Homo sapiens: one gene and its partner. The protein of the gene in region 1 interacts with the protein of each later gene in a biochemical or structural test. Each region holds a gene or a part of one and is shown in the gene's direction. Other genes may lie near its edges.

The links. Proteins that work in one complex are often made in the same cells at the same time.
Region 2: the proteins of ANAPC11 (region 1) and CUL5 form a complex in vitro, tested with the Homo sapiens proteins (one study listed by BioGRID).

The regions. Positions count from the first base shown.
Region 1 is NC_000017.11:81,897,739-81,900,755, forward strand, and holds the end of ANAPC11 (anaphase-promoting complex subunit 11), read left to right. Parts: intron 1-1,503; coding exon of another isoform or gene 1,504-1,804; intron 1,805-2,181; coding exon 2,182-2,327; coding exon of another isoform or gene 2,328-2,412; 3' UTR 2,413-2,517; downstream 2,518-3,017. UniProt on the Homo sapiens protein: Together with the cullin protein ANAPC2, constitutes the catalytic component of the anaphase promoting complex/cyclosome (APC/C), a cell cycle-regulated E3 ubiquitin ligase that controls progression through mitosis and the G1 phase of the cell cycle.
Region 2 is NC_000011.10:108,067,898-108,071,397, forward strand, and holds part of CUL5 (cullin-5), read left to right. Parts: intron 1-2,198; coding exon 2,199-2,292; intron 2,293-3,500. UniProt on the Homo sapiens protein: Core component of multiple cullin-5-RING E3 ubiquitin-protein ligase complexes (ECS complexes, also named CRL5 complexes), which mediate the ubiquitination and subsequent proteasomal degradation of target proteins.

The DNA.
Region 1 (3,017 bases):
ATACCAAAGTGCTGGGATTACAGACGTGAGCCACCATGCCTGAACAAAACTACATAAATTTTTAATTTTTTTTGTGGAAATGGAGTCTCACTATGTTTCCCAGGCTGGTCTCAAACTCTTGGCTCTGTCCTGCCACAGCCTCCCAAAGTGCTGGGATTATAGGTGTGGCGCCTGGCCCGTACAAATACTTTTTATTCTAGGCTTAACTTTTACATTGGCCCTAGCTAAATAGAAATCTCATCACTCAGGAATTAATCCTCATTTAATCAAACGGGTAGGGTGTAATCTTAGGAAATTATTGATTGACTCTACCTGATTGGATTTGTAGTTAATAGCTAATTAGGTTAATAACTAAATTCACAAGGCACAGTTTTATTTGATCTCTTTTAAATTGCTCTTAAGGATGTAACAAAGAGTGCGTGGGATGCCCTGAGGGCAGGCATTCGACTTCTGGAGCAGCAGCTTAACTTCTGAAATTCCTCCGAACCATGTGTCCACACCTCGTCTGGCTGCATCCGTGGGCCAGATGTGGGTGGTGAATCCTGTGGATTAGAGGTGGTGCTAGGTAGCCCCCAAGTGACTGCAGTGGTGGGTCCACAGGCAGCCTGCAGAGCCCGCCCTGCAGCATGCCAGCTGGGCCTGTGATGGGGCATCCAGAGGGTGTTGCCCTGAACACTCAGCATGTCTCCGCTGACACAGTGTGCTCAGGCTTTGTTAACATGGGGCCTGTTGGCTGCAGAGACTCAGGAGTTGAGAGTCTAATTTTTGGACCTGCTGATGGTTAAGTCATAGTGAGTCAGTGTTAACGCGCAAAGCGTTTGACGAGTCCAATGTGCTTCCATACTAAGCAGCACCAGGTTTCTTTTGCTAAAATTGAACTCCTGTGAAAAATTCAGAGTGACTAAGTTCATTCAACAAAGACCGTGGGAGCCCGAGGCTGGTAAACAATGAGTCCATCCCGCATCCCAGGGGACTCTGGTGGCAGTGCAGTTTTGCCGAGAGGAGTTTTAATTTAAAAAAATGCAATCAGGAGACCAGCAGGTCCTGGAATGAGTCACCCTCAGTGCATCTGCGGACTCATCAGACACCCCAGGCCGGCTTCGGGTGGGGAATGCACTAGAACGAAGTGACACCTTTGACTAAACGAGGCCTCCCCCGAGTACTCAGAGTGGCCCAGACCCCTCTCCTCAGGGGGCTAGCAGGCTTCAGCTCTCATTTGAAAGGGCCGATATCAAGCAGAGTTGTGCTGAGGCCAGAAACCCCCACGGGCAGGTCCTCCCAGGGCTGGGAGTGGGCATGCCGTGGGGCCGGCGCTGCCAGGACAGGAGGGTGGCCACGAGCTCCAGCTCCACAATGCCAGGCCGACCCTGCCGTGGGGCTGGGGCTGGGACTTGCTGTGCTCTGTTGGCAGCAGCTGTTCCTCAGGGGTTTCCAGGCTCTTGGAGATCAGGGACACTCATTTCTCTTGATCATGGCTGATACAAGCATCCCTCTCTGTGTCAGGTCCTCTCCATGGAGAAAGCATTTCTAGGTGTTTGGGCTGGTGCCCGCAGCCTGTGCCTGTCCTGGGAGGCAGGGCCCATCCACAGGTGCCCATCAACACAGCTTCCCCAACGCCTGGGCAGCACACCGGATCCCTGATGTCTAGGGAAGAGTCTTCTAGGTCCCCAGACCCCACCCCTCCTGCCCTTGATCAAGAGACCAGTTCACTACTCAGATGCACGTCTCCTTGGTGCCTTGACCATTCATGTGACCTTTTTGGCATCACAGATCAAGTGTCTGCAGATGGGCCCAGGGCCTGTAGGTCAGACATTGCCCTTTTTCCCCAGCCTCAAGCACAGGGGACACAGGGTGGGCTAGGCCAGAGCGCCACCTCCTCAGAGAGGCCCCTGGGCTCCCCACTGAGCATGATGAGCCTGGGTGAGGGGAGGCGCCTGCTGCGGTTGCCCCGGGTGGAGGCCGCATGTCCGGTGTCCCTTGGTCATTGCTGGTCTTCGCCTGGGGGCGGGCTGGTCAGGAGACCGATTGGGTAACACTCCTGATTTCGGCTTCTCTGAAACATGAGAGGCTGCAGTGCTGGAGCCACTGCCCAGGGTCCCTACCTGCACCCCTGCCTGGCTTGTCACATGCTCTGTGTCCAGCCTGGTCATGCCTGTCCTTTTCCCCACCTCCCCTCCGTAGGCAAGGTGCCCGGCGACGACTGCCCGCTGGTGTGGGGCCAGTGCTCCCACTGCTTCCACATGCATTGCATCCTCAAGTGGCTGCACGCACAGCAGGTGCAGCAGCACTGCCCCATGTGCCGCCAGGAATGGAAGTTCAAGGAGTGAGGCCCGACCTGGCTCTCGCTGGAGGGGCATCCTGAGACTCCTTCCTCATGCTGGCGCCGATGGCTGCTGGGGACAGCGCCCCTGAGCTGCAACAAGGTGGAAACAAGGGCTGGAGCTGCGTTTGTTTTGCCATCACTATGTTGACACTTTTATCCAATAAGTGAAAACTCATTAAACTACTCAAATCTTGCTGGAGGCCTCTGGGTGCCTGTGTTCTCGGCATATAGATGTGGTCTCGGTGTGTTTTGATATGAAAACTCTCATGAATAAACATCTCCGTGAAACGCCAAGGCCCTCGTCAAACCCTGAGTCATGACTGGGAGGAGAAGGAGCAGGATCAGACGGTAGAGCCTGGGGCATGCTCTTCAGGCATGCTCTTGCCTGCTGGATTGCCGGCGGCGGCCCTGGGACCCTCCCTCAGGCTGGCTCTGAGGGACCCTGGCTGTGCAAAGCTGGCGGCCACTGCTTGTGGCGCCTCCAGACTGAAGGCCACCATCTCTGAGTGGGCGTCCATTGTTCTCACTGGGACTGTCTGCAGCGGGGCTGGGCCTCCCACAGTGTAGGGATCAGTGTCCTGACACTGGGAAGTGTGTCCACACGTCTGAGGCTTCCCTTCCTAGGGAAAGGTGGCCCTGGGAGGCTCCTTTGTGTGCCTCTGCTCCCCACAATCGTGGTGGGAAGGGGCCGCTG
Region 2 (3,500 bases), on another chromosome or scaffold:
TTTATATGTGTAGTCTTTTCTTTATTTTTCTTTTTTTTTTCCTTTTTTGAGACGGAGTTTTGCTCTTGTTGCCCAGGCTGGAGTGCAATGGCACGATCTCGGCTCACTGCAATCTCTGCCTCCCAGGTTTAAGCAATTCTCCTGCCTCAGCCTCCCGAGTAGCTGGGATTACAGGCACCCACCATGCCCGGCTAATTTTTAGTAGAGATGGGGTTTCTCTGTGTTGGTCAGGCTGGTCTTGAACTCCTGACCTCAGGTGATCCGCCCGCCTTAGCCTCCCAAAGTGCTGGGATTATAGGCTATGAGCCACCACGCCCAGCCATGTGTATTATTTTCTTAGGACAGAAATATACATGGATATATGCATTTAAAAGTCATCAGCATCATTCTTGTAGAGGAGCCTGAAAAAACCTTTTTTTTTGTTTTGTTTTGTTTTGTTTTGTGACAGTCTTGCTCTGTCGCCCAGACTACACTGCAGTGACATGATCAAGGCTTACTGCAGCCTTGACCTCCTGAGCTTAACTGACCCTCCCACCTCAGCCCCCCAACTCGCAGGGACCACAGAAAATTCTTTATTCGGAAAATTTTAAGCATTTTTACAATGTAGGAAGAACAGTATAATGAATCCCCATTACCTAAATTCAGCTTTAGTAGTTACCAACATTATGTCAATTCCAAAGGAATTTTTAATAAAAAATTTTTAAGGGACACATAATTGCCTCCCTTAATTTACAGATAGATGATTTGTTTTTCAGAAGAAATATATCAGCCTTATTGTACTTAACTTTAGTCCTCACAACCTATTAATTTCATCTGATCCCCAAAAGAGAAGTAAATAATTACATGACACGAGGGAGCAGAGATGACATGATATCTTCTGCCTCATTTAGATTTTCCTGATGGCCTCCTAGAGCACTAGACCCTTGCTATCTTACCTGAAATAGTTCAACAGCCTCGTTACCATATCCCAACCACCCACTCCTTACCACCTGCCTTACTACCATTATACTGATCTTTAATAATGACTTGAGGAGAGGAGAATCTCATTACATTTATCCTCTGTTTAAAACTTCCTTGGGGCCAGGCCTGATGGTTCACACCTGTAATCCCACACTTTGGGAGACTGACAGGGGGATCATGTGAGACCAGGAGTTTGTGACCAGCCTGGGGAACATAGCAAGACATCATCTCTACAGAAAAGTTTAAAAAATTAACCAGACTTGATAGTACATCCCTGTAGTCCTAGCTACTCAAGAGGCTGAGGCAGGAGGATCACTTGAGCCTAGGAGTTCAAGGCTGTAGTGAGGTATGATAGTAGCTATGTAGTAATGCCACTGTACTCCAGCTTGGGCAGCAGAGCAAGACTCTGTCTCTTAAACAAACAAAAAAACCTTCCTTTGTTCTTCCTTCCCTACCTATGAAATAAAACCCCAAATCATAGATTTTCATTCATAATCTGGTTGCAGCCTATCTTTCTAGCCTTCTCTTCCACTGTCTGTTTCTTCTCTACCATTTTAAGCTTCCTGGTATTCCTAGAATACGTAACCTATTTTAGGGCTTGTACTTACTTTACAGGATCCCATTTAGATACCAACTTGTGGATGAGGCCATTTTAACTACCCTAGAAAAAAGTAGTTTCTAAGTTTTTTTTTATTTTGTGTGTGTTTGTGTATGTGTGTGATGCCACTTAACTGAGTTATATTTAGTTAGCAGTGTAGGTTTACTGCCCTCCTCACTCTCAATTAGACAGTGATCTCTTCGAGAGCAGGAATTATATCTTATTCTTGTCTCTTAAATACTTCCTTAGTGCCTGCACGTAGTAGGCATCCAATAATGGTTTGTTGAATGAATGTATTCACACTTCTAGAATTTTATAACCTAATTTTAAAACAGGTTCTCTCCAGACAGGAAGAGTTAATCAAAGTTTGGTTTTGTATATTTTTCTCTCCCCTCCTTGAGGACTTTTGTTAAAATTTCTAAAGAGAGTCTAGTTCTATAGTTTTTTTCCTTAGGGGAAAATACACTTTGGTAAACTAGTATAGCATATCCATCTTCAATAATCCTATAGTTAAGGTAAGTGAAATCTACTTTCAGTATAATTTTTTTTTTGTTGAACAATATTGTTTTATTTTGTGAGTTAGAATAGATTTGTGCTATACAGCTTATAGTAGCCTTGACTAATTTTTGATATATTTCAGCTCATGGAATGCTGTGTAAATGCCCTGGTGACATCATTTAAAGAGACTATCTTAGCTGAGTGCCAAGGCATGATCAAGAGAAATGAAACTGAAAGTAGGTAAAACATCACATAAAGTTATCATAATCTTCTAAGAGGGTATCTTTGAAACAAATCACTTACTAAGTTGCTCTTAGTTAATTCTTTTCCACATAGGTATATGTGGAACTGTTAGAGTGAACTATACTTAAGGAAATAGATAAAATATTTAACACAGAGGCACTGCTAAGAGTATATAAACTTAAATTTTAAGCATTTTCCCTCTTAGCTATCAACATCTGTGTATGTGTATGGTGAATTTCTACTTTTTTCTCAAAAGCAAGACACTGCTTTTAAAGGCCAGTTTAAACTGGAAACATATGTTATAGATTAGAACCAGGTATTTGACTTTTGTGTGGAACCTTGTGATGAATCTTTTTAGAATGTAATAAAACACTCCCTGTTAATAGTCATCTCTGTCCCCCAAAATACTTTATAAGATTTCTAAAGGATTTTTTTATTACTTCAATGTTTTCTTAAAAAGATGTGTTTTGAGAGGTAGCAAGTATATAACAAACTAAAAAAAAAAATTGTACATATACCTACTACCCCAGTAAAACTGCTTTTAACATTTTTTTGCTTTTGTTTTTTAAATAACGTACTTCTACTGAGTTTCCAGGTTTTATTATATCTAACTGCAAGGTCCTGTTTAATCTCTAGTTGCATTTAAAGTGCATATTTCAATTCACTTAAGTTCATACACTTTTTAGGAGTAATTCAGTAGTAAAAAGCAAGCTGCTTTATTGGCGTAAACAAAATACTTGTATTCTGTGTGCCAGTCTAATTAGAGTTATGTCTGATCTATGTTGCACTCTTTTCAAAAGGATTTATTTAGTGGTAATCAGTACCGTGAGGTAGGGTTTTTGTGAAGGTCAATAAAATGGCATAACATGAAAAAGTGCTTTGTAAATTGAAAAATTATTTATGAATACAGTTTTATATTCTAATCTCTAATATAGTTGCTTTCGTAATTATTACTCATGTTTTTTACCTTTTGATGATATGGCTGTATATGTAGTATTACAACTACCTTATGAAATAAACTAATCTTGTGTGTAAATAAATATTCCTTTGCACTGAAAACCAAATGACTCACCTTTTCTTTTGAGACTGGGTCTCGCTGTGTTGCCCAACCTGGAATTCGATGGCACGATCACAATTCACTGTAGCCTTGACCTCCTGGGCTCAAGCGATCCTCCCACCTCCCAGCCCACTGAGTAGCTGG